Linked DNA regions of Homo sapiens. The protein of the gene in region 4 purifies or fractionates together with the protein of the main gene of each other region. This does not show direct contact. Each region holds a gene or a part of one and is shown on either strand. Other genes may lie near its edges.

The links.
Region 1: the proteins of POLR1D (region 4) and POLR3H purify together in Homo sapiens (affinity purification with mass spectrometry; 6 studies listed by BioGRID and IntAct, with this or other methods). This does not show direct contact.
Region 2: the proteins of POLR1D (region 4) and CRCP purify together in Homo sapiens (affinity purification with mass spectrometry; 5 studies listed by BioGRID and IntAct, with this or other methods). This does not show direct contact.
Region 3: the proteins of POLR1D (region 4) and POLR3B purify together in Homo sapiens (affinity purification with mass spectrometry; 6 studies listed by BioGRID and IntAct, with this or other methods). This does not show direct contact.

Annotation. Positions count from the first base shown.
Region 1 is NC_000022.11:41,527,336-41,535,203, forward strand, and holds part of POLR3H (DNA-directed RNA polymerase III subunit RPC8), read right to left. Parts: intron 6,353-7,868; exon of another isoform or gene 5,639-6,352; intron 5,411-5,638; coding exon 5,324-5,410; coding exon of another isoform or gene 5,269-5,323; intron 4,823-5,268; coding exon 4,759-4,822; intron 3,554-4,758; coding exon 3,352-3,553; intron 2,002-3,351; coding exon 1,948-2,001; 3' UTR 1,279-1,947; coding exon of another isoform or gene 1,144-1,278; 3' UTR 688-1,143; coding exon of another isoform or gene 566-687; 3' UTR 86-565; coding exon of another isoform or gene 1-85. Other genes in the region: ACO2 (aconitate hydratase, mitochondrial precursor), read left to right, coding at 1-85, 566-687, 1,144-1,278.
Region 2 is NC_000007.14:66,109,914-66,118,256, reverse strand, and holds the start of CRCP (DNA-directed RNA polymerase III subunit RPC9), read right to left. Parts: upstream 3,343-8,343; 5' UTR 3,295-3,342; coding exon 3,287-3,294; intron 1-3,286. UniProt on the Homo sapiens protein: DNA-dependent RNA polymerase catalyzes the transcription of DNA into RNA using the four ribonucleoside triphosphates as substrates.
Region 3 is NC_000012.12:106,451,144-106,459,011, forward strand, and holds part of POLR3B (DNA-directed RNA polymerase III subunit RPC2), read left to right. Parts: intron 1-3,358; coding exon 3,359-3,568; intron 3,569-5,994; coding exon 5,995-6,153; intron 6,154-7,868. UniProt on the Homo sapiens protein: Catalytic core component of RNA polymerase III (Pol III), a DNA-dependent RNA polymerase which synthesizes small non-coding RNAs using the four ribonucleoside triphosphates as substrates.
Region 4 is NC_000013.11:27,616,616-27,624,231, reverse strand, and holds POLR1D (DNA-directed RNA polymerases I and III subunit RPAC2), read right to left. Parts: upstream 2,341-7,616; 5' UTR 2,249-2,340; coding exon 2,223-2,248; intron 1,358-2,222; coding exon 982-1,357; 3' UTR 783-981; downstream 1-782.

The DNA.
Region 1 (7,868 bases), on a different chromosome or scaffold from region 4:
GGCTCGAGCCGGGAGCATGCAGCTCTGGAGCCTCGCCACCTTGGGGGCCGGGCCATCATCACCAAGAGCTTTGCCAGGATCCACGGTGAGCTGGAGTCTGTACCCAGGCCATCCTCATCCCATCCCTAGTGATCAAGGTCACTCTCCCTGCCCGTGGCTGAGTTGGGCCTGGTTCTAGGCTGTGTCCACTGCAGCCCACAGGCCCGTCAGCCTCTTGCCCCTTCTTAGGCTCACACAGTGCACATCCGACGCTCAGCTTCCCGGCTTCCCGCAGGCCCTGCTTCCAGGCTTGTAGATCTGAGCCGCTGAGATCTAGGACATGTGCCAGGGGGTTCTTTCTGATCATGAATGTGCAGCAGGAAGGCCTCGCAGACCTCAGCACCAGCGCACACTTGCTAGGGGCACCCCTAGTGAAAGGGAGCAGACCAGGGCCCCATAGTCACTGCCCGGGCATTGTCCCAGGCAGCAGGATTAGGGGCATCTCCCAGAGCCCCAGATGGGTTCAGAAAATGAAGCTCTCCAGGCTAGTCAGGCCCCCGATGACCGAATGCCGCCTGCTTTCCAGAGACCAACCTGAAGAAACAGGGCCTGCTGCCTCTGACCTTCGCTGACCCGGCTGACTACAACAAGATTCACCCTGTGGACAAGCTGACCATTCAGGGCCTGAAGGACTTCACCCCTGGCAAGGTTAGGGGCCCGGGTCCCCCTGAGGTGGTGGGGTGAGGGGCAGCCACCTTGTTTCCCCTCCTGCACTGGCCCCAGGGTAGCTTCTCCCAGGAGGCTTCATTCCAGCTGGAAAGGCCCCCAGTTCTCCAGGTGGCCCCACAGAGAAAGCAAAGTGGCTTCTCAGAGTTGGGGGTTGGAGTCAACCCGGGGCCCTCACACCTCCCCAACCTCCCTTTACTCACCAGGACCTGGCACTCAGGGGACAGCCCACCCACTGCAGGACCCTCTGGGCCCCAGGAATCCCCTGTAGGTGCCACCTGGGTCTGACCTGGGCCATCAGGCACAGACTGGCCTAGGATTTGGTTTGCCTGCTGACCTCTTAGGTCCCCAGGCAGTGCCCTGTCTCCCTGACCCCCCTGCGGGGCCAAGGGCACACAGTACCCACCACTTCCACCCACACCCACCTTCTCCTTGCAGCCCCTGAAGTGCATCATCAAGCACCCCAACGGGACCCAGGAGACCATCCTCCTGAACCACACCTTCAACGAGACGCAGATTGAGTGGTTCCGCGCTGGCAGTGCCCTCAACAGAATGAAGGAACTGCAACAGTGAGGGCAGTGCCTCCCCGCCCCGCCGCTGGCGTCAAGTTCAGCTCCACGTGTGCCATCAGTGGATCCGATCCGTCCAGCCATGGCTTCCTATTCCAAGATGGTGTGACCAGACATGCTTCCTGCTCCCCGCTTAGCCCACGGAGTGACTGTGGTTGTGGTGGGGGGGTTCTTAAAATAACTTTTTAGCCCCCGTCTTCCTATTTTGAGTTTGGTTCAGATCTTAAGCAGCTCCATGCAACTGTATTTATTTTTGATGACAAGACTCCCATCTAAAGTTTTTCTCCTGCCTGATCATTTCATTGGTGGCTGAAGGATTCTAGAGAACCTTTTGTTCTTGCAAGGAAAACAAGAATCCAAAACCAGTGACTGTTCTGTGAGTGATTGGTGTCTGTGCCGTTTGTTGTCAAGTCCAGGGTCCAGGAAGGGTCTTTTCAGTCAAGGTCAGTGGAGGCCCAACAGCCACAGCCACAGATGGATCCATCACTGCAGTGAAGGAGGAGCAGGGCCTAGATGGTGGAGGAGCGGGGCAAGCTGGTGGGCACTCCTGGCCTTGCCTCACTGTCCAGCTCGAGACACTATCTCCTTAGCATCGGCCTCAGCTGCTGTTGTCTTCACAGCCGGCCATACCACCTTCCCGCAGGCTGGTAGGGTCCACTGTCCAGCCCCAGGGCTAGTTGCTGGTCCACCAGGAGAGAAGGCCCAGGCCTGGCTCACTGATGGATCCCTGCCAGGGATAAAGAACACGCACATTTCACTGACATGCTGGCTTGAACCAACCTGGACAGGAGGTGAAGGGAGCCCAGCAGGCCCAGCACAGGCAAAGAAGAGGCGGGGCACACGGCAGCCAAGAGGCTCTGGAGAGATGTGGGAGCCACAGCAGTGCTCCCAACGGGCACGCAGCACGCAGGGCGCAGACCCTTCTCCAGGGACTCCAGGCCCTGATAGGGTCAGGGACCCTTCCTCACCCTTAGGCCTGCCCTCCAGGGCCACCTAGGTTCTAATCGTGGCAGGAAGGCTGAGCAAACACAAGGCCCATGCTCCAGACGCATCCAACAGGGAGCAGCCTTGAAAGCCACTCTTCCCCGGAGCCCTCCCTTTTATTTCACTGCTGCAATGCTGCTCCTACAGGGAGCCCTACCTTTTTTTTGTTGTTTTTTTTTTTTGAGACAGTCTCGCACTGTCACCCGGGCTGGAGTGGAGTGGCACGATCTTGGCTCACTGCAACCTCCACCTCCCGGGTTCACACCATTCTCCTGCCTCAGCCTCCCAAGTAGCTGGGACTACAGGCGCCCGCCACCACACCCGGCTAATTTTTTGTATTTTTAGTAGAGATGGGGTTTCACCGTGTTAGCCAGGATGGTCTCAATCTCCTGACCTCGTGATCCGCCCACCTTGGCCTCCCAAAGTGCTGGGATTACAGGCGTGAGCCACTGTGCCCCAGCAGCCCTACCCTTAATCTCAGGGCTTTGATCTCTCCCAAGCCCCTTCCTTGATTTCTTTCTCCCTCAAACCCCTCCCTACCCCCCAATTTTTTAAAGATAGCATTTCATTGTGTTGCCCAAGCTGTAATGCAGTGGCACAACCTTGAACTCCTGGGCTTAAGGGATACTCCCATCTCAGCCTCCCAAGTAGCTGGGACCACAGGGCACGCCACCATGCCCTGCTAATTGTTTTTTATAGAGACAACTTCTCACTTTTTTAGCCAGGCTGGTCTCAAACTCCTGGCCTCACACGATCCTCCCACTTTGGCCTCCCAAAGTGCTGGGATTATAGATGTGAGCCACTGCACTTGGCCTCAAAGCCGCTTTATCAGTGGTCTTGTCCACCGTGAGCTCTGTCCCCTTTGCAAGCTGACTCGCCCACCCCACCAGCAGCCATGTACCTTTACTGCCTCACAGCCCTGGCCTACAGAAACTCAGGCTCTCCAGGGAGAAGTGACCAGCCAAGACCCCCCAAACAGGATCCCTGACCTGCTGGGGGAGATCCCAGAGCAGAAGCCCCAGGACACAGCTTCCAGCCCTGCACTCCGGCTCTCCCGCCTCATGGGGGCTTCAGCACCATCAGAGCCACTCACCACAAGCGTGTACGGAGCCTCCTTCTTTGGCAGCTCCTCACTGGAAGTGGTGGCATCTGCTGAGCTGGGCCCTGTGGGGGACGTGTCAACAAAGCTCTCGTCCACCACCCGGAAGCGGATCTCCTCGCCGGTGTCCATGTAGAGGTCGTGTGCTCCTTCCTCCGTCTCGTACTCCCACACCCACACCTGCTCCGCTTCGTCGCTGAGGGGGTCCAGGGTCAAGGCAGCAACCAGATAGTGGGAGGGGCTTCCCTCAGCACCCACTCCCCGACCCCGCAGGAAAAACCAATCTCAGGGTGAGATCACTGTGGCTGGGAAGTCACAGGAAAAGCAGGTCCCAGCCCCATGCACAAGGCCTGGGCCAAACAGAGAGGAACAAGCGCTCTTGGAGGCCAGGACCCAGGAAGGGGAACATGGGGTCCCCAGCCAGGCACCACGGCCAGACGCACATGGATCTCAGAGCACCAGAGCAGGAGGGGACGAGACAGGGTCCGAGTCCCACCTCTCAAGACAAGAGCAACCTGGGCCTCCTGCCACGGAGCCCCACACACCCTTTTCATCAAAGCCTTGTGACAGGCTGATGGGCACCCAAGGACTTGCCGTTTTCAAGAGGACATAGTGGGATGGGAGGTCACCTGCCCACTTGGATGACAGGTGGTGAGAGAACCAGCCGGGCTGCGCCAGGTTTTCTAACACATCCTGGAGTCACATGCAGACCCAGAGCCGTGCTGCCACCCAGCCAGGGCAGTCCCCCTTGGCTCTCCATCGTCCCTGGCAGAGCCCACACAGGGGAGCCATGGGTTCTCTGGTGGCAGTCCCACTGTTGGGTCCTGCCTCTGTGCCAGGTCCCGTGCTGTGCACCGTGGGTACAGCTGTGACATGTCAGAGTCCTTCCCAGTGAGGAGCCTCAGATTTGTGGATAGCCCCACAGAAACAGACAACCCCAGTACAGCAAGGTGAGGGGTGGGACAGGGACAACGGAGGCCCAGGAGGAACACATCTTAGCCCACGACCCGGCACACAGGCAAGGCCTCACGTCCCAGGGACCAGTGCATGCCTCCAGGGCAAGTGATCTTTAAGATGATTCCTGCAGGGACAACCTAAGTGAAGTGAACCGGAAGTGAATGGTGTCCCCCAGGACACCACAGCTCTAATGGTGTGCAGTGTACAACCCAGACAGCCAAGCCTGATGGCCCCGACAAAGACAGGCATGTGGGCATCACATGACTCCCTGCATGGGAGGCACAGACAGGCTGGTGCCTCTGGAGCAAAAGCACAGGCGAGGGGCAGGCACAGAGGCCAGTGACATCAGGTTACAGGCCCCAAAGGCCACCCTAAGGAGTGGGGACCTTCCTTTGGAGAGGCCTGAGCTCCCTGTGACAAACCACTTTAACCCTTGGAGGATACAACTTGGCTGGCTGCTGCAGTGACTCTGGGGGGATGAGAATGTCATCGAAGAAGCCTAGAGAGACTGGAAGGAAGGAAGCAGGTGACGGCCTGAGATGGGGGTCCCAGTGGACGCCAAACACTGCGGGGTCTTATGCTTGACAGGCAAGCCCTGCCTGGGGCTGCCCACGAGGCGGATGTCGCTGTGGAAACCTAGGCCCCTTCCCCACCTAATGCCTCTGCGTACACCACCCACATAGCGGAGCAGCCCTGGGCAAAGCCCGGAGCACCTAGTCCCCAAAACCTCTGCACACAACAGGGGCCAGTGGGCGCTAAAGACTCCCAGTCACTTCCGCCAGCTTCAGTGCCCACCCTGAAGTCCTGAGTGACGGCCTCACAGTGAAACCGCACTGCTGATGGAGGTCCTCACACAACACATAAAAGGGAGGGTGGGCAAGCTTCTCTGACACCACGGGGAAGGTTCGGCCTCGACACCTGAGCCCTCCCCTGACCATGTGGGTGGACACAGACCTCCTGCCCCCACAGTGTTCCCAAGTCTTGTCTGAGGCGTCAGGGCCACTGTTACCGTGCACTCCTTCTGGGCTGCAGCCTTTGATCTTCCCAATGAGAATCTCATCTAGGAATGGATGAAACACCACGCAGCGAAAATGGACTGGAAATGAAGACAGCCCATCAGTGATGCTGACCGGGGCCCCAGTGCGCTCCCATGTCACCCTCAGGTGCCAGCACACCTGGGGGCCTGTGTGGCTGCTCCATGCCACATCCCCCTGCAAGCCTAGACCCTCCCTTTGTCTCCTGCAAGTTCACAGCATGGCCCCCACAGGGGGGCAGCAGCAGCTGTCCTGTAACTGGGCACTCCCAAAACTGCCAGGTTACTCACACCTGAGCCCAGATTCTGAGCCATCAGTGGCTCCAAAGTCAATTTCAACCTCCCTCCAGGCTCTCCTTCAGCTCCTAAAAAGGGCAGAAGCAACTGGTAAAGAACGCAGGGTTTGGAAACTCCCACCTCCTGCTGAGCAGCAAAGTCGGCCCCAGGCACAGCTCTGACCTGGAGAGGAGGCTAAAAATGCCCTGGTGTTGTGAGGCGCAGGCCAGCAGCCCAGCAAAAATGCCTCTGTGGGTTCTCAGGCCATGCTGCAGGTGGTCCCCACTCACCTGACTGCAAGGAAAACACCAGGTGGGGTCTGTGCCCACATCGCACACTCTGACCCCAGGCCCTGGCATTAGCTGTATGTCACCTTGTCACTCAGGCCCTTGCTCGAAGCCCCAAAGTAGGAGTCCAACGCTGACCTGAGAATCAGCACGCGGCTGCCCCCTGCTGGTTACCAACAGAGTTCCCACCGTGAGGATAAGGCAGTGGCTCAGAGCCAGGGTGACCCACTCACAGCCACATAGCCATGGGGAGACACCTGGTCTTTCTGTACCCACCAGACAGGGCCACCGGGTCGAATCTTGCCTTCCTCAGACAGGTTTAATCCCAAACACAGGCTTCCACGATGCCGTCAACCATTTAGTCGGCCAACATGCCCCCCAGGACGGCAGGGACCCTGGCATCAGCAGGGCATGAGGAGAGGCAGCCGATGGACCTCTCACCCTGGGAAGACACAAACGTGAGCCATCACAGCCACCATGAAGATGACTGGGCCTTGTGCTGACCTCCCAGAGAGCAGATGAGGGCGGCCAAGGGCCACTTACGCACAGATGGAAAAACCCTGTCCCCCACATGGCCCAACATTCAGTTTGGTTTAATAAATCCTCACAGAGGCCGGGCGGGGTGGCTCAAGTCTGTAATCTCGGCACTTTGGGAGGCCGAGGTGGGCAGATCACCTGAGGTCAGGAGTTTGAGACCAGCCTGGCCAACATGATAAAACACCGTCTCTACCAAAATACAAAAATTAGCCGGGTGTGGTACCAGGTGCCTATGATCCCAGCCACTCAGGAGGCTGAGGCAGGAGAATCACTTGAACCAGGAGGTGGAGGTTGCAGTACGCCAAGATCATGCCACTGCGCTCCAGCCTGGGCAACAGAGCAAGACTCCGTCTCAAAAAAAAAAAAAACTTCACAGAGCCTGCACCAGGTTTGTGCCAGGCCCAGTCTGGGCACTGGGCTCACGGGGGTGGGACAGCACATGATCCTGCGCCCAGGGAGCCCCAGGCTGGAACAACCACATCCAAAAGCAAATGCTGGGCACCCGGAGTCCCCCATGGATGGATGAGTAAACAAAACATGCTGGAGACACACAATGGAATATTATGCAGCCTTACAAAGGAAGGAATTCTGACATGCACTACAGTGTGGCTCAACCTCGGGCTGAACCTTCACATGGGGCCAAGTGAAAGCAGCCAGACACAAAAGCCACACAGTGTGCGACTCCATTCATGTACAGTGTCCAGAACCACATCCATAGAGACAGAAAGCAGTTAAGTGGCTGCCAGAGGCTGGGTGAAGGACAGGATTAGCAGTGACTGCTACTGGGCGGGGTTTCTTTGTAGGGTGATAAAAACGCTGTGGAATGGCCCCGCGCACGGTGGCTCAAGTCTGTAATCCCAGCACTTTGGGAGGTCGAGGCGGGCGGATCACCTGAGGTCAGCAGTTCAAGACCATCCTGGCCGACATAGTGAAACCCCGTCTCTACTAAAAAAATACAAAAATTAGCCAGGCGTGGTATTGGGTGCCTATAATCCCAGCTACTTGGGAGGCTGAGGCATGAGAATTGCTTGAAACCAGGAGGCAGAGGTTACAGTGAGCTGAGACTGCGCCATTGCACTCCAGCCTGGGCAACAAGAGTGAAACTCTGTCAAAAAAAAAAAAAAAAAAAAATTGTGGAATTAGATAGTGGTGATGGCTTAGCTGATGAGGGTGTTGTTCCTGGTGGGAGGGGGCCCTCTCCTGCCCTGCTCATATCTGCCTACTTACCATAACCCCTGGAGGCCTGTGGTGCCAGTCACTGTATTCCTCCATTCCTATAGTTCCTCCAAACTGGAACTTGCATCTAGAATTTTTAACAGATTCAACTCCTAGCGTTTAGCAACAGAACTGCCTCATAATCGGTGTTGAGTTCTTCCACCAGGAACTATATAATGCTTGTTTGTCTCTCTTTGGGGGAAGCT
Region 2 (8,343 bases), on a different chromosome or scaffold from region 4:
CGCCTGTAATCCCAGCACTTTGGGAGGCTGAGGCAGGCAAATCACCTGAGGTCAGGAATTCAAGACCAGTCTGGCCAACATGGAAACCCCGTCTCTACTAAAAATACATAAATTAGCTGGGCGTGGTGGCACACGCCTGTAATCCCAGCTACTTGGTAGGCTGAGGCAGGAGAATCTTGAACCCTGGAGGCACAGGTTGCAGTGAGCTGACATTGCGCCACTGTACTACAGCCTGGGTGACAGAGCAAGACTCCATCTCAAAAGCGAACTAAAAAAAGAACAATAAAAAGAAGAGAACAGGACGAGGGCGAGGAGGAAAGTATACCAGACAGAGGGTACCACAACGCAATGGTCCTCAGGAAGTGCTTAGAAGGTTAGAGGAGAAGGAAATACCTGTCAGTGGAAAGTGTGTGTCTGGGAGGTTGGGAGAGTGGCAAGTGGTAAGGCTGGGGAGTAGGTGAGGTTTTACAGGGTCTTGCAGGTCCTGGTAAGAGATGGAGATTTTCTCTAAGTACAATGGAAAGTCAATGAAGGGTTTTACCCAGGAGCGACATGTTCCAATCATTACTTAAGATCACTCCAGTTGCCATGTGGAGAACAGAATGGAGGCTGGGGAAGAGTGAACACTCAAAGGCTATTGCTTAATCCAGCCCAGAGGTGATGGACTACAAAGCTAACATTGGAGATGGTGAAAAGTAACTGCATTCAAAATATATTCTAGGGTGGAAACAACAGGACCACTGATGGACTGGATTTAGGGAGTGAAGAGAGAGGGCTAGATTTTTGGTCTATGCAATTGGATAGATGATGAGAAGAAGGTTAGAAACATACCTTTGAGAACCATCAGCACATAGATGGGTGAAATGACAGAGTGTGGAGAGAAAGGGTCCCAGGACTGAGCCCTAAGATACCACTCAACACTTAGACATCAAGCAAGAGAGGAACGGGACCCAGGGAAGGACACTGAAGTAGTCCTTGATGTAGGAGGAAATACGCAAAGGAACATACATCACAAGAAAAGGAAAGTTTCTAGAGTTTCTGTATTAACCACTGCTGAGAGATCAAGAAAGTTGAGGCCAGAAAATCAACCTCTGAATTTGACAAGATGGAGGGATCAGGTTTTTTTTTTTTTTTTTTTTGAGACAGTCTTGCCCTGTCACCTAGGCTGGAGTGCAGTGGCACAATTTGGTTCACTGCAACCCCTGCCTCCCGAGTTCAAGCGATTCTCCTGCCTCAGCCTCCTGAGTTACTGGGATTACAGGCGCCCACCACTACACCCAGTTAATTTTTGTATTTTTAGTAGAGAGGAGGTTATGCCATGTTGGCCAGGCTGGTCTCAAACTCCTGACCTCAGGGGATTCGCCCACTTCGGCCTCCTAAAGTGCTGCGATTATAGGCATGAGCCACCACGCCCCGCTGGTTCAGGTAATCTTAACAGTCATTCCCGTAGACCAGTGAGGATGAAAGCCCAACAGAATGGCTGAGAGAATGAGGGGCTAATCAGCACTTTCAAGAAGTTTTGTTGGGATGGGAAGCAGAAATGGAGTAAGAGGGGGACATGTATGTGGGGACGGAGGATTTTCTAAGATGAATTCTCTAAAGCAGGGTTGTATGCTCACAGGAAATGCTCTAGTAAAGAGGGAAAAATTAGTAATGATGGCTTGGACTAGAGTAAATTATATGAATAGTTTTTTAGGTTGCAGATGAAATCCCATCAGTGGGTTGCAAAATTAATTCAGTGGTTCAATTTTTTTTTTTTTTTTTTTTTAAGACAGAGCCTTACACTGTCACTCTGGCAGGAGTGTAGTGGCTCTATCTCAGCTCATTGCAGCCTCCTGGGATCAAGTGATCCTCCCATCTCAGCCTCGTAAGTAGCTGAGACTACAGGCATGAACCACCACACCCAGCTAACTTCTTAATTTTTTGCAGAGACAGGGTCTCCCTATGTTGCCCAGGCTGGTCTCCACCTCCCAGGTTCAAGTGATCCTTCTGCCTAAGCTTCCCAAAGTGCTGGGATTGCTGGTGTGAGCCACCACGGTTGGCCCCATTCATATTAATAAAAAATAGACAATATGAGAGTGTACGCCACACATTATTGTTTCATGAGCCTTTCATTTCAGTTACACAGACATATTGTGTTTAAAAAAAAATCGGAAGAGGCCAGGTGAAGTGGCTCACGCCTGCAATCCCAGGACTTTGGGAGTACAAAGCAGGAGGATCACTTGAGCTCAGGAGCTGGAGACCAGCCTGGGCTGTAGTGAGACCCTGCATCTACAAAACTTTTTTTAAAAAATTAGCGGTGAGTGATGGCGTGGGCCTGTAGTCCCAGCTACTGAAGAGGCTGAAGCAGGATTGCTTGAGTCCAGAAAGTGAGGCTGCAGTGAACCATGATTACACCCCGCCTGGGGGACAGAGCAAGACCCTGTTTCTTAAGAAAAAACAATTAATTAAAAATGTAAAAATGTGAAATGCCATAGTACATATAACCATTAAACATGAGGCAAAAGAACATAAAGGAAACTGTATCAAATAATCAGTTCAAAGAGAACACAAGATAGTAATACCTACAAATTAATATCAACCGTATAAAGCCCACATTCAGAGTAGATGCAAAATCTTCCATTTGCACCAGGCGCAACGAGCAAGCATGGAAAAGACCACGTGGAGTTAAACTGTCAGAAAATCTTTTACCCTCGCCTTGCACACACACCCACACACCCCCTGCTGTTTCTCTGGTCCCAGTCCTGGTTCACGTCCTTCCCTTCTCCACCCCAAAACCAGCCCCTTCCCTCACAGTGTTTACTGCTCCCATCAAATTCCGAGGGCAGCTCTTCCGAGGGCTCTCCAGGGGCCTACAGCTGCAAGCAGAGCTCTACCCGGCCCTGATTCGTCTCTCCTCCACCTACTTTCAGGGCGGACAGACTCAGGCCTTTATAGCCTTCTAAGTCCGGGGTCGGATACCAGACTGGGCTCCACCCCCGCACTGTGACCCAGAAACGCTGGTAAACGAATGAGAGAAGGAGGGGGCACATTGAAAGGCAGCCGGACACGGAAGTGCTCGGCCCCGCACCAGACACGGCGTGGAGGGGAAGCGAAGGTTCGGAAGGGCAAAGCGAGAGTCCCGTTCGTCCCCGTCACCACCCCGCGGCCCTCCCGGACAGGGCCGGCCCGCTGCCCTCACTCCCGTACGAGGGTCGCCCAGTCCCCACGGCTCTCGGCTCTCAGCTCTCAGCGGTCAAACCGTTGGGCTCCTCGGGCGAAAAGGGACGCGCCCGAGAAGACTTACACTTCCATGACGTCCCGCCTCGTCGCCCCTAGCTGCCAGCAGACAAAGAACCTCACACTTCACAGCTGTCTCCGCCGCCACCAACAGCGCCAAGGTGCCAGCTCCGCGCGCCAAGGTGCTCGCCGGGATCGCCGCGCTGCATGCCGGGAGCTTGGCGGACCCGGAACCTCGCGCTGCGCGTTCCCCTTTTTCGGGGGGCAGGGTGGGGGAGTGTCCCTGCATCCTTCCACCAGGCCGATTTAAGACTGCTAAGCGTTTGCGGACAGGATTATCTTGTGTTTTCTTTTCTTTTTTTCTTTAACCTTTTTTTTTTTTTGAGACGGAGTCTCGCTCTGTCGCCCAGGCTGGATCTCGGCTTACTGCAACCTCCGCCTCCTGGGTTCAAGCGATTCTCCTTCTGCCTCAGCCTCCCAAGTAGCTGGGACTACAGGCGCTTGCCACCAAGCCCGGCTAATTTTTTGTGTTTTTAGTAGAGACGGGGTTTCACCGTGTTAGCCAGGATGGTTTCAATCTCCTGACCTCGTGATCCGCCCGCCTCGGCCTCCCAAAGTCCTGGGATTACAGGCGTGAGGCACCGTGCCCAGCCTCTTTTTTTCTTTTTTGAGACAGAGTCTCGCTCTGTCACCCAGGCTGGAGTGCAGTGGCACGATCTCGGCTCACTGCAATCTCTGCCTCCCAGGTTCAAGCAATTCCCTGCCTCAGCCTCCCGAGTAGCTGGGATTACAGGCGCCCGCCATAACGCCTAGCTAATTTGTGTATTTTTTAGTAGAGACGGGGTTTCATCATCTTGGCCAGGCTAGTCTTGAACTCCTGACCTCGTGATCCACCCGCTTCGGCCTCCCAAAGTGTTGGGATTACAGGCGTGAGCCACCTCGCCGGGCTCTGTCTGTTTTCGTGGTCTAGGTTTTAACAAAGTATTAATCAGCTGAAGTTGTGAGACGTGATCGGGTTAGTGGGCCTTTGCATGTTAAAATCCCACCTCTCAGAGAGTAGTGAGGCTGGTGGCATCTGGGCTGCCAGAAACATTGCAGTTTATTTATTTATTTTTTAAGAGACAGGGTCTTGCTCTGTCGCCCAGGCTGGAATGCAGTGGTGCAATCAGAGCTCACTGCAGCCTTGAACTCCTGGGCTCAAGCAATCCTCCCACCCCAGCCTGCCAGAGTAGCTGGGACCACAGGTGCGCTCCGCTACACCTGGCTAATTTTCTTTTTTTCTTTTTCTTTTTCTTTTTTTTTTTTTTTGAGATCAGTCTCACTCTGTTGCCCAGGCTGGAGTGCAGTGTCGTGATCTCGGCTCATTGCAACCTCTGCCTCCTGGATTCAAGCAGTTCCCTGCCTCAGCCTCCCCAGTAGCTAGGATTACAGGTGCCCGCCATAATGCCCAGCTAATTTTTGTATTTTTTTAGTAGAGACGGGGTTTCACCATCTTGGCCAAGCTGGTCTTGAACTCCTGACCTTGTGATCCACCCTCATCAGCCTCCCAAAGTGTTGGGATTACAGGCGTGAGCCACTGCACCCAGCCACCTGGCTAATTTTCTAAAATAAAATTCTTTATTGTCCAAAGAGTCAGCTACAAAATTTTTTAATTTTTTTGTAGAGATGGGGGTCTCACTGTGTTGCCCAGGCTGGTCTTGAACTCCTCGCCTCAAGTGATCCTCCCACCTCCAACTCCCAAAGTGCTGGGATTACAGGTGTGAACCACCACAATAGCCTCTGTTGCCTACTTTGTAAATAATAAGGGTGTTAAATAATCCTTATAAAGTTCCTGGCACTTTATTAATTACTGTGGCAATACAACCATGACTCTCTATGAGGTACATTGCATTATTATTGACATTTTATAATTGAAGAAACTGAGGCAGACTTGGAGAGATTATGATTTACCAAAAGTCACTCATCTAGGAAGTTGTCCAGTGGGTATTGAACCCCAGCCAATCTGAACATATACAACAGATGCATTAACTAGAGACTGATGAGTGGATGAATAAAATGTGCTACATTTGTGCAATGGAAAACTACTTAAAAAGGAGGCTGGCCGGGCACGGTGGCTCACGCCTGTAATCCCAGCACTTTGGGAGGCCGAGGCGGGCAGATCACGATGTCAGGAGATCGAGACCATCCTGGCTAACAGGGTGAAACCCCGTCTCTACTAAAAATACAAAAAAAATTAGCCGGGCGTGGTGGTGGGCGCCTGTAGTCCCAGCTACTAGGGAGGCTGAGGCAGGAGAATGGCGTGAACCCAGAAGGCAGAGCTTGCAGTGAGCCAAGATCGTGCCACTGCACTCCAGCCTGGAAGACAGGGCAAGACTCTGTCTCAAAAATATAAAAATAAAAAGGAGGCCAGGCTTGATCTCAGCACTTTGGGGAGCAGAGGCAGGAGGATTTCTTGAGACAAGGAGTTCCAGAGCAGCCTGGGCAACATAGCTAGACCCCCTAACTACGAAAAGTTAGCCAGGTGTGGTGGTGAGCACCTCTAGTCCCAGCTACTGGGGAGGCTGAGGTAGGAGAATCGCTTGAGCCAGAAGGTAGAGGCTGCAGGGAACTATGATCACACCACTGCACTCCAGCCTACAGAGTGAGAGACCTTGTTGCAAAAAATATATATAGACAGACTGATAGATAAATGCTGCAAGATGGATAACCTCCCAAAACATGATGCTATTAATAAGTGAAAGAAGCCAGACACAAAATAATATATATTGCCTGGCCAGGTGGCTCACGCCTGTAATCCCAGCACTTTGGGTGGCTGAGGTGGGTGGATCATCTGAGATCAGGAGTTCAAGACCAGCCTGGCTAACATGGGGAAACCCTGTCTCTACCGAAAATACAAAAATCGCCAGGCGTGGTGGCTCACGCCTGTAATCCCAGCACTTTAGGAGACTGAGGCAGGCAGATCATGAGGTCAGTAGTTCGAGACCAGCCTAGCCAACATGGTGAAACCCCGTCTCTACTAAAAATACAAAAAGTAGCTGGGTGTGGTGGGGGGCACCTGTAATCCCAGCTACTCGGGAGACTGAGGCAGGAAAATTGCTTGAACCCAGGAGGCGGAGGTTGCAGTGAGCCGAGATCACGCCACTGCACTCCAGCCTGGGTGACAGAATGAGACTCCTTCTAGAAAAAAAAAAAAAAGAATACATATGGTATGATTCACTTTATATAGAATGTCCAAGAAGAGGCCAATCTATGGATACAGACAGAAGGCTAGGTTGGGGGCAAGGATGGGAAGTGATTGCTAATAAGTAGGGAGTTTCTCTTTGGGAAACAGAAATTGTCTAAAATTATTATAGATGGTGGTGGTGGTTGCACAACCCTGTGAATATACTGAAGACACTGAGTTGTATACTTTAAATGGCATATTGTACAGCATATTAATCCTATATTAATAAAGCTGTTAAACATTTTTTACTCTGCTGAGTGTGGTGGTCCACACCTGTAATCCCAGCACTTTGGAAGATGAAGGCAGGTGGATCGCTTGAGCCCAGTTTGAGACCAGCATGGGCAACATGGTGAAACCTCATCTTTACCAAAAAAATAGAAATTAACCAGCTTGATGGCTCGTGCCTGTAATCGTAGCTACTCAGGAGGCTGAGGCAGGAGCATCGTCTGAATCTGGGAGGCGGAGGTTGCAGATCACGCCACTGCACTCCAGCCTGGGTGACAGAGCAAGACTCCATCGCAAAATAACGACAACAAAAAAGTCATAAAATGCCACCCAGACCCAGCTGGCCTAGTTAGTGTGGAGAATTCCCTGTACCTTCGCTGAGGAGATTGGGCCCCACAAAGAAATGCTAAAGATGCCCCTTGTGTTATTCACTCAACAAGTATGTAGCCATGGCCCATCGGGGGCTGATGATACAAATGTGACTAACACACACCCTCTGCACTGGCTAGCTGACAGCCTAGTTGAGGAACCAGCTCTGGACATAAATAACCACAATGCATTGTGTTTCGACGCGATGGGCAGGGGAGGGAATGACTAATGAGGTGGAGAGGCGTCCCAAAGCCACGGGCCTTTGAAGTGGGTGAGGGAAAAGCACACGAGGCCGAGGGATTGGGTATGGGCTTCAGTGAAAAACAGCAGTGCCTCTGACAGCCCCCATGATAAAATGGCTCAGGTGTGACTTAGAGTAGGGAGTTAGCTGGGTGTTCGAATGATACCCGGTAGGCCAGGTGCGGTGGCTCATGCCTGTCATCCCATCATTTCGGGAGGCCAAGGCGGGTGGATCACTTGAGTCCAAGAGTTCAAGACCAGCCTGGCCAACATGGTGAAACCTCATCTCTACTGAAAATACAAAAATTAGCCGGGCATGGTGGCAGGCGCCTGTAATCCCAGCTACTCAGGAGACTGAGGTAGGAGAACCACTTGAGCCCGGGAAGCGGAGGTTGCAGTGAGCCGAGTAAACATTCTTTTTACTGTCTGCACCTCTGGTCCTGGATAGTCGCTGATCACCATGACAATTAAGGGTATGGACCTTAAGAAGAAAAGATTATCCTGGATTTTCTATGTGGTATCAACATAATCACATGGATCATTAAAAGCATAAAATCATTCTCACCTGATGTCAGAGCCCAAGGGAGGTGTGGCTAGGGAAGGGAAGAATGATCTGAGAGATGCAATATTCCTGCCTTTGAAGATGGAGGAAGGGGCCATGAGCCAAGGAATGTAGGTAACTGTAGAAGCTGGAAAAGGCAAGAAAACAGATTCTCCTGTGAAGCTTCCAGAAAGGACTGCAGCCCAGCTGGGTGCCACGGCTCACACCGGTAATCCCATCACTTTGGGAGCCCAAGGCAGGCGGATTACTTGAGGTCAGGAGTTTGAGATCAGCCTAGCCAACATGGTGAAACACTGTCTCTACTAAAAATTTAAAAAATTAGCTGGGTGTGGTGGCAGGCGCCTGTAATCCCAGCAACTTGGGAGGCTGAGGTAGGAGAATTGCTTGAACCCAGGAGGGGTAGGTTGCAGTGAGCCAAGATCGTGCACTCCAGGCTGGGCAACAGAGCGAGACTCTGACTCAAAAAAAAAGGACTGCAGCCCTACCAACACCTTGATTTTAACCC
Region 3 (7,868 bases), on a different chromosome or scaffold from region 4:
CCCTGAGGTGAGGAACAAAGGGAGGGATCTTTTGGGGGTTAGGAATGTTCTGAATCTTGACTATAGTGGTGGTTTCACAGGCAATTTATAGTGCAACCTTGATAAAAAGTTCTGATATATGTATATCAGAACTCATTAATTTGTACACTTTAAATGGATGAAGTTTATTGTATTCAATAATGTTGATTTAAAAGAAAATTGAGGCCAGGTACTGTGGTTCATGCCTGTAATTTCAGCACTTTGGGAGGCTGAGGCAGGCGGATCACTTGAGGTTGAGGAGTTCACCTGGCCAACATGGTGAAACCCCATCTCTATTAAAAATACAAAAATTAGCTGAGTGTGGTGGTGCAAGTCTGTAATTCCAGCTACTCGGGTGGCTGAGGCACAAGAATCAGTTGAACCCAGGAGGCAGAGGTTGCAGTGAGTCGAGATTGTAACACTGCACTCCAGCCTGGGTGATGGAGTGAGACTCTGTTATTTAAAAAAAGGCGGGGGGGGAGGAGAGGGGAGGGAAGGAGAGGGGAGGAAATTTGGCAAAGGAAGATAGGAAAAAATAGCTAAATGCATAAAACTTCATTTTAATTTTTTCAGCATACATTTTCTAAGCTGTTTACATCCTTCCTTACCAAGCTTTTTCATGCTGCCTTATAAAAGAGCACTTTTTCAATATTTTAACTTACATTTGTTTACCTTGTAGTGCCAGCTTGTGACTTAAGAAAGTTGTTATCAAGAAAATAGGGCTTTTTAGAAAGATTATGCCTTAGTAAGTAAAGGGAATCATTGGAGACCATAGTACAGCAAAATGGGATAATAGAAGTAGAATGCAACTTATAGATATTCTCCTTGTGTTATTTTATATGTGTGTATATATATGTAACGCCCTTTTTAAGGAAGCTGAAAATACTAATAGGGGAATCAAAGTTTGAGCGTGTGCTGCACACAGGCAAGCCCTATCATTTGCTTGCCTGTTGCTTATTGGCAAAATGGTTAGTCAGCCATTCATTATTTTTATAAACATTTGGGAATCTGATAGCATTTTGAAGTTTTATGATATAGAATAGTTTATAAATTCTATTTTAACATTTTAACTTACACACCCATAGTCAGTGCTGCTAAAAATGCACGTACATGTATACTCTCACAAGTTCTTTAAAAGGCCTTTAGAGAAAACTTTTTGATGTCATAAGCACTAAACATTTGCTAAACTATTTTGCTGTTCATCCATTCAGTGGTCAGTTGTAATGCCTGAGAATTATGTTCTGGGCCTGGTAGCACAATTTATAGCAGGATCCAGTCTCTTTCACCATTGTTTAGAGGTGCAGCCATTTATGCTTCCCTGCTGCATAATAATGCGTGTCTCAGGTTTCAGAAGACATGTTTGGCAGCCTGGTGGGACATTGCCTGAACCCTTGTCTCCAGCTGAGTAAGGTATACAATTGGAACTGAAATCTCAACATAAATTTTAAGTGATTTCATAAAAAAGGACAAACTTATTGTCAGTGAACTTTACCATAATCCCAGCAGTAGTAATCTTATTTCTAAAACAGTAAGTGATCTATTGCCAGGTATCCTGCCCAGTTTATTAGTTGGCACTAAAATAACATAAATCAATTGGCAATTTATAGTGCAACCTTGATAAAGTTCATGAGTTTCAGTTTGACTTGTTTTTCAGCTGAATCTTTTTAAGTTTTTAGAGATTTAAGCACATACTGTCATAAAAAGTATAATAGAATTCTTCAATTTAATTTGCTTGACATTTATTGAGCATCTATAATAAGCATGGCACTGCACTAGGTATTCCCTACATATGTACTATTTCTTTCAGTAGTAATTGTCAAGTAATTTTTGCTGCTTGAATGGTTTATTTTCTTTTTCTTTTCTTCTTTTTTTTTTTTTTTTGAGACAGGGTCTTGCTCTATTGCCCAGGCTGGAGTGTAGTGGTATGATCTTAGCTCACTGCAACCTCTACTTCCTGGGCTCAAGCGATTCTCATGCCTCAGCCACCCAAGTAGCTGGGACTACCATGCCCCGTTAATTTTTGCATTTTTAGTAGAGACATGGTTTTGTCATGTTGCCCAGTCTGGTCTTGAACTCCTAAGCTCAAGCAGTCCACCCACATCGACCTCGCAAAGTGCTGGGATTACAGGCATGAGCTACCACGCCCAGCCTGAATAGCTTATTTTCATCCCCAAAATGAAATCATCATTGATTTAATGACATGAGTATGGAGAAAAAGTTAAAGGAAATAAATACTGAGTTTTGGTGTCTGCATACCCTAGGGTGTAACTCTGTGAAATGGCACTTAGGTACTTCGGAGTGTGTGTGTGTGGTGTGTATGTGTCACTATGGAAGCGTGTGCAAGAGAGAGAGACTTAAAGCTGCCTTAGCTATTCACAGGGGGAGAAAAGAGATACCTAGGAGAAGTTAAAGAGGCTCAGTAGCCCACACTCAAGCTCAGCAGTAGAGCAAGCCTGAGTTTTCCAACTTTAACATCTCTTTGTAGCATCAGTTCTGTGTCCACAAGCCGAGGAGACTGAAAGACTCATCTTCAGGCAGGTGCATGAACCCCAGTGTGTTTATAAGGGGAAATGAGAGAAAGGGTTAACATTCTGATTTCATGTTCAGTTGACAGTGACCCAATAACACCCATCCGAGGAACAATCAGGTGGAAAGACTGATTGCTAAGGAGGGAAGAGCCCACCCCTGATTGGGCTGTACCCTAGATTTCTTAAGGAAGGGGCCAAGCCTTTTCTCATTTTATCTCCAGTTTTTGGCACAGAGTAGATGTTTATTAACTGCTTAATACATGAATCATCAAATAAATGCATAATCCACTCTTCCTTGCTCTCACTTGAATTCCTCTTTGTTCATTCTTTTTCTTCCCTTCTCTCCTGTATTCTTTTTCATTTAGAACTTTTGCAATTATTTCTTTTTATGGAATATACCTGTTTATCCATTTTATAAGCTCCTCGGATGTGAACACTGGGCGTTGTTCTTACATTACCTCTCCCCAGCAGGCCTGGAACACGGTAGAACCAAATAAAGAATTGTTGATTGTGAAATTAACCAGTGGAAACTAAATCCCTCAAATGGGATAATGTAAATCCAAAAAGTCTAAATTATTTAGATTAAAATATACTTTATATTTTTCCTTCTTTGTAGAACTTTAAATATTAGTGAGAAAAGTTGCTTTTGCAAGTTGTTAAGCCACCATGAGAGTATTGCTTTTGAAATGTTGAACCTGAAGATTTTGTTCATTTTAATTAGTGATGTTAATGTATTTATCTCTATATTCATTACTACCTTATTATTTCACATAATAGAATGTTGTATTTTGTTTTCTCCCATATCAATGCAGGTACTATAGGATACAACCAGCGAAACAGAATTGATACTCTCATGTATCTACTAGCATATCCACAAAAACCCATGGTTAAGACAAAAACCATTGAATTGATAGAATTTGAGAAACTGCCAGCTGGACAGAATGCAACAGTTGCTGTGATGAGCTATAGTGGCTATGATATTGAAGATGCTCTTGTTTTAAACAAGGCCTCTTTAGACAGAGGTAAGTGAATTTTCAAAACTAACACCAAAGTTGCTTTTTGCAGAATTAGATATAGGGATGATTAATGTAAAAATCACTTGGTTAATGTCAGTTTTAAGTTATTTGAATTTTATGATATAGAAACAGGAGGTGGTTGGGTTTTGATGTTGGCTTTCTTGTCATTTTTAATGACTAGTATATTGAAATAATTTGTTAAACATACTACTACAGAATATTTTTCTCCTTTATTATTTTATTGGTTACGTGAGACAATCCTTCAAAAAGAAAAAAAATGTAAGAATGTGTTTGTTTTCCAGCAGGAATTACAGTATATGAAATATGTGTTTTCACTGTGTCTAGTGATACATATTATTAACAACAAACCTGTTTGAGAGGGCAGTAGCAATATTTGGATGTAAAAGGCTGTTTCTTATTTGTGTAACCTCATAATTTGGTAACTTCTTTGGCCAAGTGACGAAAGTTAAAAATACACGGCCACAAACTCTGGCGTGGAGTTTTTCTGCTTTTCTTTCTGTTTTTGACAATACTTTCACAAGTCACCACCTCGTGGTTTGTTAGACATCACCTGATCTGAAGTCTGACTTCTCTATTCATAATCTCGATTTCTCTTTTTCCTTCCTGGCGTACCCACTATGCCTTCCCCTTCCCTCTTTGTAGTTGCTAGGCAGCCATAATAGTACTCCTAGACATGTGTCTTTGGCATTAATGTTGGCCACACTTAATTTATGCCTCTTTTTTTCCTCCAAATGACAACAGCCATGCTTTAAAACTAGATGTTTTCCTTTCTGATTAACTGGTAACGTTTATGTGGAAATCTGAAGACTTTGTGATGTCTGTCAGAAACTCTGCAACCCAATTCAGTGATCTGAGTTTACTATCCCCTAGCTTTTAAGCTATCACCTGTAAATAAAATGTCTGTTTACACTTTGAAGAAAACACTTCTTGATTTCATGCAGTTAAGATTCACATTGCACTCCAGCATGTTGCAGTTAATGGCTACTGTATGAAATTTCAAGATCATGTAATGTTTCCAAACCAGCTGGCATTCTGAGCCGAGTTTATTATGGCCATACACAATTTCCTAGGAGCCATGATGACTACGGCCTTGCTTAAAGACACAAATGTCTTCATCTGACGTCCAATTTTAGAAATTCGTTACTTCATCTCACAGTCACCTTCATATTTAAAAAATTACATTACAGCCCTGAGATTTTATTTATAAATCCACTTTTACCTGATTGATTTCTAAAGTCACATTCTTAGATTTCTGTTTTTGGTGGAAAATTGTTAAGTGAAGGATTTTACTGCCATGCATTTATTTCATCAGTAATAAGCGGCATTTAATCCTGAGACATTTCTTATTTAAGTGAACTCTGGCATGGCTCAGTATATCCTGAGGAGATTAGTAAGAGAATCCAGTTTAAAATAACTGCTTGGCCAAAGGGAAAAAAGAAAGAAATGCAGCCACAGAATCAGGAAATTATAGTGTTGAAGGAATGACAGCTGTTTTGGGTAACTCTACAACTCATGGATTTTTTCTTTTAGGGATTCAGTGGTTGAGTTTTTTTGCCCCACCCAAAGGTTTTTCTTCTGTCCTTTTTGCTTATTTTTCTTCCTTTTCTTTTCTGATCCATTGCTAGACAGCTTATTTTTCTTGATGTTTAGATTGTTAGTTGATTTCACAGCCTTTCCCTCATCCACTAGATAAATGCAATCTAAAAATGTAATTAAACTCCAATCTTTAGGGCAGAGGAGAACTATTTTTCCCATTGAAATAATTTGATTATTTCTTTTTTCATTCTGTCTCTTCTCTGGAGAAAAATTATTGTTTTTACTTGTTGGCTTAGAACTTGCTCTAAATGCCAAATTTTAAAAAGGAAAACTTTCCAGGGAAGTTTAGCAGAAGTTATGCACCAAAAGGATGTGTATCCTGGCTCAGGAGTCAGTGGACTTGTGCTGTTCAACACAATTCTCAACTCTGCTGCCAACTTTTTGGATGACCTTGGCCACTTAATTTCTCTAGACCTCACTCCTAGTGCCTGTAAAACAGATAGGTTAAGCAGGTGATTTCTAAGGGCCTTTCCAATTCTAATATTCTATGGCTCTGTCCTCTGAAAGAATCACAGCGCCAGTCTTAGATTTCTCTCACCGTTCTCCAGTATGACAAGGTGTATTCCATGCAGAAAATGGTTGTAGAGATTCCAGTGTTTACACAGACAGTAGGTAGGGGACAAGTCCTGTGCTGCTTCTTCAGATTATCAGATTTTTATTTGGTTTGTACTGGTCCCAGATTATTATCAAATACAGAGAAGTTTTGGGATTTGGGGGAGGGTGAGGTGGAGTGGATTGTTGAGTAGCACAAATCCATATTTCCTTATAGCTTTGGGTTACTGGTGGTTCTAATGCCCATCTTGGTTTCATTTTAGGCTTTGGGCGTTGCCTTGTATATAAAAATGCTAAATGTACGTTGAAACGATACACCAATCAGACTTTTGATAAAGTGATGGGGCCCATGTTGGATGCTGCTACAAGGAAACCTATCTGGCGACATGAAATCTTAGATGCAGATGGTATTTGTTCTCCAGGTAAAAGCCTTTTAAAAGAAAAAATTTTAATACTTTTTGACATCATATGTTATTCAATAATATTTCTGAATATTTGGCAAAAAGGGCAGAAAAAAGTAACAACCTATAAAACCACCATCCAAACTCAACCAATGAGGTCATTTTTGATGAATTTCCTTCCAGTCTGTTTTTCTATACACTATGTTTTTACCTATCAGTAATCTATGCTAACTATAATTTTCTAGTTATAATTTTGAATAATAGAAAAGCCACTTTAAGGAAATATTTAGAGTAGTTTATGTCCCTGCATCTGCACTGGTATTTCTTCATTTACACATTTAGCTTACAGACTACTTTAGAATTTTATCCCCCTGCAAAGGTATGACTCCATTATAATTACAAACTTGTAATGCATTTTGTTGATGAAACAAATAGCCCTTGCCCTTATGGGTCTCACAGGCTAGTGCAGGAGACTGACATTGATCAGAGGATCATGCATAAATCCAGGTTAAGGAATCATATAGGTAACTATGAGGCCATTTTATAGCAAGAGAATTTGACCTTGTTGGGAAGATCAGCATGGCTTTCCCGAGGAAGTGAGCTGGAATCTGAAGGATAGGGAAGAGTTAACTAAAGAAGAGGATCAGGGAGCATGTTCTAAGTAATGAGAAAAGCTTGTGCAAGGGTCCCAGAGCTTGGTAGTTGAAAGGTCTGAAAGAAGACCAGCGTGGCTAACAAGAAGAGAGTGCAGGGAAGCATGGTGCACATGAGTTGGTGGGTGACGCAAGGGGTAGGGGCCAGAGTAAGCAAGTCCTTGCAACCATGTTAGTATTGTCTTTATTTTATTTTATTAATTTTATTTTTGAGACAGGGTCTCAGTCTGTCACTGAGGCTGGAGTGCAGTGGCACAATCTCAGCTCACTGCAACCTCTGCCTCCCAGACTCAAGTGATTCTCCCACTTCAACCTCCTGTATAGCTGGGACCCATAGGCACGTGCCACCATGCCTGGATAGTTTTTTGTATTTTTTGTAGAGATGAGGTCTTACCATCTTGTCCAGGCTTGTCTTGAACTCCTGGGCTCAAGTTCTCCACCCACCTCGGCTTCCCAAAGTGCTTGAGCCACCATGCCGAGCCCATGATACTATTTTCATTATGATCCTAAAAGCAATGATATATTCAGATATGTGTTTTGAATGATCATTCTGACTACAGTGTAGAAAAAGGATTAGAAGGGCACTAAAATAGAAGGTAGACCTGGTACCAGGAGCTGTGGTGAAGGTGGAGAGAACCCAGTTTGTGAGGAGGGAAATCCACATGACTTTGTCATGGTTGGCCTGTGGGCGGTGAATGCTTTATCAAGCTGTGGTTCCAAAGAGACACAGAGTACGCGACTTCTCCTCCCTCCCTCTGCCTTTGTTTCTTGGAGAATTTTTCTCACCCTAACACTGGTCAGTATGGCTTGGAAAATACGCGCTGTGACAGTACTACAGGTAGTTGGTCTTTGAACTTACCAGGAAGAGATACAAAGCAAAAATGGGAATAACAGCATAACCAAAGAAATATTTTGATTTCCTTGTTGCCCAAGTTAAATTGGTGGTGGCTTATTACTGGTTGAAATAACTATAAATAAAAATAAGTGACCAAAACTTAACACCCTAAGAGATATATAAAATTGCTATTTACTGAGATGATGTTTCTCATGTTCATGTAGTACTCTGAATTATTTTCTTAATTT
Region 4 (7,616 bases):
AAAGCACAAAGAAGTACCCAAACTAGGCTGAGAGGCCTGACACATAAGCTTTGACTTAAGAGTACGGCAGGAGTAAGACTGGCCCAGGAAGAGGGGATAGATAAACAAGGGCCCAAAGCACAGAGCACTGGCGGGTGGGATATGTGTTTTCCAAAACAGTCATTTCCCCTATATGGAATTTTCCTTCTCCTTGGCTTTACCTTCTCTCAAATAGGGCTTCTTCTACATTACCCTAGGCTATACCTACTTAAGGACTGAAAATGTTTTCTAGTCATCCCAATTTTCTCCTTCTGTAATATAATCAAAACATCTTACCTTACTTAGATCATGACTAAGTATATCCCAAAATTCAAGCAGTAAACTGGTATCTTTCCTGTAAATGCCTCAAAGATGGAGCCTTACTCCCTAAAACTCTCATGTAAAACCAGAATTCTCACACTTCTTCCAAATTATTCCCACCCTTGCCAAGTCTACCAATCACAGCAAATGATGCAATTCTTTAAAAGCCAAAAAGTTTAGCAAGAAGCCAAGTCCCCACCCCAATCTTCTTTCCTTCTGTTTTTAAACAACAATCTAACTGGGGTCATGGTTTTTGTCTCTTCCCTTACCCCCACCACTCCAACTACAGACATGGATATATACTTCTTTTAATTCCCATGATCACAGTTCTTGTCTAGGCCTCTGATATTCTCAGTTTCCTCATTTTCAATGCTGGCTTAATTAGAAAAAAAGTCATCCTCAAGGACCATTTGGTTGCATGGAACAGAAACCAGTCAAACTAGTTTAAATAAAAGAGGGAATTTATTAGAAGAATACAGAGGTTCTTGCAGAGATTCCAACAGCTGCAAGGGGTCAACAGCTAGAATCACGCCTTTCTGAAGGACAGAGTATGCTGTAACCACAAACTTCTAATTCTGGGTTCTGCACCATCAGGAAGAGAATATCCTACAGGACAGTTCTCCTTGTATACTGCATAAAGGACTAGAATGTGGATTCATTTCTGCTTGCTTTTTGATCCTTATAGTCCTTTATGCTGGCCTCAAACTTGTCAAGCACATGTTGGCAGACATTCATGAGCTCATTCAGGCCTCTCTGAAATGGCTCAACAGCTGGAAGGGTACCTCGAGTCTGAATGCGTAAATTAATTTTGCTCTCTGAAGGATGGGTCGTAGTGTAACCACAAAATTCCACTTCCGGGTTCTTCATGATCATGTAACGTAGAGAATTTCCTAGGGTATGGTCTTCCTCGTGCAATACAAATGTCACACAGTGTCTATCTGTTCCAGCTGCCTGGACCATTTCCAGGGCTGTCTTCCTCTCGCCTTCAGCCATTGAGGTCTTCAATCCAGATATTTTTCTACACACATATTTTTTATAAAAATGAGATCATACTGAATATTGTTTTGTAACTAGCTTTTTCTCATTTACTATATCACATTGCAACACATTATTATTAATCTACTCCAGCTACACAGAATTATTCGCCTCTCATTTTCCTGCCTCCACAAACTCTATCAATAAATATTTAATTTATTGCCTCCAGTTTTTCCCTGCTCCATTTGACCATCCACACTGGCCACAAGGGGAGTTTTCTTAGAAAAACACAAACTTAAGTGTTTGCAAAAATATTTTTTGGTAGAGTCACAAGCAAGGGATAGGATTAGAATAGGACTGGTCCTGCTAGAGGATGAAGAGAGGGTTGAAAGGCATAGAAATCCCGATTGCTCTAGTATAAAAATAGAGGATACAGATGATCAATGTGCAGGCCCAACTACGGCTTCCATTTTGCAAGAGAAGGAAACTAGGAGAATGGAAGGTTCAGGAGTCAAGCAGCAGGGAGAAAAAGAGCTCAGCGCACAGAGTGGCTTTAGGAGCAGTCTGCACATAGAAAGAAGGTGAGCCGTAGTTACAGGGACAGAGGCACGAGTACCGTCCTCAGGAGCAGAGGCCCGGGGCGTGATTTTTACACACTGCTGTTGTAACGGGGGTGGGCAGTTCGGATACTTAACTCTGGTCTCCCAACTTGTCTTCCCTCCTTGATAGCTAGTGTACCTCTCAGCCTCTCAACTGAAACACATTCATGTCTCCTCCCCACTTCTCTCTCCATGCTTCTTCTCTGCGCCCCGAGTCAGGCCCCGGCTGCCAGGCCAGGCAGCGTGCCCCTCGGCCACCCGCTCCCCTTGGGCGCGGCCCGCTCCGCCCGCCTCCTCCTCGGCCGTTACCTCTCCAGCTCCTGATCCTCTTCCATCGCTGGGGCGGTTTCTGGATCCTCAGGTGGTGCTGGCGGATCGGGGGCTCTGTCCCATAGCGCGAGGCGCGGAGGCGAAGCAGGAAGCAAGGACCGACCGACGGAAGGCGCGGAGGACGGAAGGAGGGAGGAGGAGCCGCAGCGGCGCGGCAGGGCCCAGCCGCGGGGCGGGGCATGAGGCTCCACCCCCAGCCCCCGCCCCGACGCGGGGTGAGCGGTGGCTCGCGGCCCCGCGGCTCACCTGGGCGACCACGCGAGGCCACTCGCGGCGGGAGGGGCAGGGGGCGGGGCCAGCGCCGCCTTACCCCGAGGCCCAGACAGGCCTGCGGGCGCCCCGGCTCAACTCTGGTACCTTTCCCCAGGTGATGGCGAAGGGGCGCGGCCTTACCTGCCGCCCCCAAATCACTTCCCTTCCCAGTGGCAAGTCCGAAAGCGGCCCGACTTCCCAACTGGGGCGGTGTTGACCCAGGATGGCCCTTCCTGGGACCCCGGCCCTCCCGGGCCTTTTGTGGGACGACAGGCTTAAACTGTAGTCGGTCAACACACCTTGAAGAGGGAGGGGGGTCACGTGCGAGATGAGTCACCACAGAATACGAAGGTTGAAGGCGGTATTTGTTTCACCGGGGAGCTTGCAGTTGCATTTTCAACTGGGTCAAAATAGGGCAAGAAAGAAATGTCTCTTTTGGGGGAGTGAGAGTTTGGGAGAAAACTGTTTCCCACCTTATCCTTTCCGTCCTAGGATTCCTTCTACCCCCAGAGCGCGTCCTCTCCGGCTGTAGACTTCCTTTTCCCTTTCTCCCCAGTGGCTCCTCAAACCTCCTCACCTGCGGAACCCGCCCTCACCTTTGTTCCCAGGCGCCCAGCCCCCGCCTCGGCAACCTTTCGCCGCCCAGGCTCGCTCTCCATCCAGCTCCCTGCGTCCCGGCCTTCGCTGTGCTCCCTCAGGTGCGCTTCCTCTCGAATCGGCCCTTCTTGTCCCCTCGCCGCTGGCCCCGACCCTGCCCGACTCCAGCTGTCCAGCGCAACTACGTTTCTGCTTCCCTGCGCCACCTGTTCTCCTGGCCTCCCCCCACCCCGCCCCGCGATTCCTCTGGATGTTCACTCCTTCCCCAGCTGTGCCACTCTTGGCGGCGGCCGGGGGTGCGCGCAGACACCTAGCCAGCGGGGCTTCCGCAGGGGAATCAGGCGGGCGGCGGGGACAGCCCGGGGCGAGTGGGGGAGGCGGGCGGCGAGGGCGGAGTGGTCTCACTCTAACCCGGGAGTGACGGGTCCCTTCTGGCCCGCCTCCCGAGCTCTCGGATAGGTGGAGCCGCCCTCTGGTCCGCCCACCTCCCGCCCTGTGCTACCTCCGATTGGCCCGGGTGCGGGTTGGGCCGCTCGGCCTTGGCGCTGCCCCCGGGAAGGCAGCAGGGGCGGTTGAGAAGTGAAGTCTTGGCCGGAGTTTGCTTTTTGCCAGGAAATCCGCGGCGGCGGCGGCGGCGGCGGCGATTCCTGGCGGAGCGGAGCCGGGCAGGCTCTCCGCTCCCTCAGCGGGCCGCGGAGAGCGGGAGCTGGTGCCGAGCAGCGGCGCCAGGAGCCCGTGCGCGGCCCGGGCAGCCGCGCTTTCCCAGTGAGTAACTTTGCCCTGCCCGCCTCGCTGCGCGCCCTCTCGCTGGCTGCGGGCAGCCGCCTCAGGTGCGGGCGTCAGCTGGGTGTGGGTCAGCGCCGCGCCCCGGGAGGCGGCCGGAGCGGCGCCACAGCTCGCCCCGGAGCCTTGGTCCTTCGCGGCTGTCTTCGCTCGCCCGGGCTGCGGGGCTGGCGTGGACTCGGGTGTGGGTCTGGTCCAGGAGGGAGAGTCGGCGCCCGGTGCCCGCCGCCTGCAGGCGCCCGGGAGGCGGGCGGCCTCCGGCTGTTAGCGTTTGCTGGTTCCGGCCACCGTGGTGCAGAGCTTGGCGTCGTTTGCTTCTTAAGGGAAGGGAGAGGTGGGGTGAGTGTTTAAATTTCCTCTGTGTGTGTGTGGTGTCGGCAATGAGAGTGGCACTAGCTGCCTTTATCGGGTTTTGTTCTCTGGAAAGGGATGGGGAGAGATCATTCCCTCCGCCCCAGCCTGTTGCCTGTGAATTCTCACCTTTCTCTTTAGGCTGGAGAGGGTGGGAGAGAGATTTGACATCTTCCAGGGGGTAATTTAAAAATATGAATCTTGATTTGGAAGCAGTTGCACACAAAGCATCATTCAGGAAATACATCACTCGCTTTTCAAAGCTGTATGCCACGTTTTAAACAAGGACTTTTGACTCATGTAGTGTTTCTTTTAGTATTTCAGTTTACGTTAAGTTTATGAATCCAGACGTTCGTTTGTACCAGGAGCTAAAGTACACTTATGCATGGGCTTTGCTGTGTATATTATGCTTTTTAAAATCACAGAAATCAGAAACAAAGTTGAGTGAAAAGCGGTGGCGGTGCAGGAGGAGGAACACTTGTGAGCTCCAGCTTATTGGAACTGCCTTTAAGAATTTCACATTCTTGCGGCAATAGTACTTACTTGTAAATTGGCCTTCTTCCCAGGACAGGTTTTGATATTTCTTTTGCATGTACTTCGATGCAGCACTAATGAAGTTGGATCTCAGTAGATCAATTTTATTTACTTTGCTAGATTTGATTCCCACCCCCACACCTCTTTAGAAAATGGACTTTGGCAGGTAAAGAAGGAAGCGGGAATCTGGTATCCTTTTTGGCTTGTCAAAGCTTTGTTGAGCCATGAATAACAAAGTTTTGGCTTTTTAGCTTGTCCGAGTCCCACATGTGAGTTTTCCCATGGGGTAAAAGTAGGCCAAATGAGAACCAAAGTAGAATAACATCACTTTTAATTCGGCCCACTTGTGTGTTACATTCTCCATATATCTTGTTTCTCTCATCAACTTTGAAATTTTTTCATTATTTATTCATTTAGCCACTGATAAAGTACCTACTGCATGCCAGCCATTGATGGCGGGGGTTGCTTCTTGCCCAGTTTTCTCATTTGGAAACTGATCCATGCCTTTATCCCACTAGTTACCCTGAAGTAATTTGAACTTAGGGAGCATTTCTGCCTGGAGACCTGTAAGAATAGGTGTTACGTAGGCACTTAGTCTTCAGATTGGTTTGGGATTTCGTACATTGTAGGCACGTAGCACGCAGGCCACTTAAAAATAAATGTATGTGTCTTTGGGCTGTTGTATTACGAGCTTTGCATATGGGCTTGTCTGGCCGAAGGACCCAGTGTCCGAGGTGGAGGTAGTAGTCAGGGACATGTATTATTCATTTCAGAACACTTGGCACCTTTTCTTGCTTACATTGGGCACTAAAATATTTACTGAATTGACTTGAACAGAAAAATGAAGGATTTTTTATACCAGATTAAGAAATTTGGACTTTATCCAGTCAGTGATACTGAGCTGCTAATTTTAAGCAGGAGAATGTCATGATAACGGGTAAGCATTCCAGAAAGATATCTGCAGCGTCTGGAGGATGGTGGGCTTCCAGATGGGCGATATGGAGACTAAGTTGGAGGCTGTTCTAATGGAGGGGTTAAGTGCTCAGGGATTCTCTATTCAGATTACCTGGGGTGGAATCAGGCTCTGTCATACACTGAAACCTCTTTGTTCCTTAGGTTTGTCATCTCAGAGTTTGGGGGATAGAACTTGAAAAAACATGTCTATTACTTAGAATAGTGATTGCCAGATAGTAAGGACTTAGTAAATGCTAGTGTGCTGGCAGTGGAAGGAGAAATGACGTGGTGTTTAAGAGGTATGACTAGGAGGCTGGACTAGGTAAGTGACTGGGTAGGCTTAAGGAGGGAAGGATGAATCCTGGGTTGTTTGACTTCAGGCATTGATTGACATGTACTGGGTAAGCTGGCTGTGAAATTAAAACGGGTCAAATTCTAATTCTATTACTTACCCTTAGAATAACTATCCTGACAGAACTTTGATTTCCTAACATTTGGGAAATGATTGTCGTACCTGTTGAGTAGGGTTTGAGGAATTATGCATGTAATGCCTTTGGCAGGGTACCTAGCACATTCCAAGTGCTCAGTAAATATTAGTTGTTCCTTTAGATGATGACATTAATGAGCTAGTGGAATGTTGGAGGATATGAGAAGGAGCAGTTAAAAACAATTGATGGTAGAGGTGTAGAAGGGAAGATAAGTTCAGTTTTGGACTAATCTAAGGAGGTGCTAAATGGATGGTTGAGAGATCCATGATGCAGTTGTTGGATAGTTGTGTCTCACAGGAGCTAGGAAAGAATAGAAAAGAAAAAGAGTTCACAGAAAGGCTTTATGAGTATGGTAAGCTTTATGAGAGATTTAGAGGAAGGGGAGGGTGAAGGGGTTCACAGTGGAGCGATATCAGAAGTGTTGACATTGAATATTAGGCATTTCTATCCTTAAAATATATTTTGGCCACCATCAAAGAAAGGAGGACTCCAGGCTCTTGTAATCTGGTTGGCTCTTTGGCCTTCTTCCCCTCTTCTTTCTTTCCTTTACAATTGCCACCCGATATCTTTAAATTGTATTATGAGGAACTATTTAACTTTCCTTCCTGCTTACAGGGCTAGAGTTCACAGGCCCACCTTCCTCTATCCAAATGCATCTAGGTTTTTAAAAAAGAATCACAGGTCTCATTTCATAGGTTCTCCTCTATTTAGGAAGCAGTGTTGTTTGAAAAAGTAATACATATGTATCTTGCATGTAGAATTAGAAGACTGGGGCAGGCCTACCTAAATTGACCCTGTAGGAGGGCCTGAGAGTCTTACAAAAGACATCCCTTTTAGCTTTCCTGGCACCTGTTTCTTTTCCTCAGAAAATACAAAGCAGTAGGAAAATCTGTGGTTAATAAGTTATTTTGTTTGGTTGGATTCAGAAAAGGTGGCTATTTTGTGTATTAGCCTTCTAAGAAGTTATTAAGAGGAATTTTTTGGCCAGGTGCAGTGACTCACGCTTATAATTCTAGCACTTTGGGAGGCTGAGGCGGGCGATCACGAGGTCAGGAGTTCAAGACCAGCCTGGCCAACACAGTGAAACCCTGTCTCTACTAAAAATACGAAAATTAGCTGGGCGTGGTGGCAGGTGCCTGTAATCCCAGCTACTCAGGAGGCTGAGGCAGGAGAAATCGCTTGAACCCGGGAGCTAGAGGTTTCAGTGAGCTGAGATTGCGCCACTGCGCTCCAGCCTGGGTGATAGAGCTAGACTCCATCTCAAAAAAGGAATTTTTTAACAAGCAAGTGCTCATGACATTACAATAATAAATTGTCCTCTAGTTAGTATGCTTTTAAAGAAGCAGGTGTTGTAGGTTCTATCCTTTAGAATGTGTGCTTCCTAGAGCTGGGATCCTATCTATTTTGCTAACTG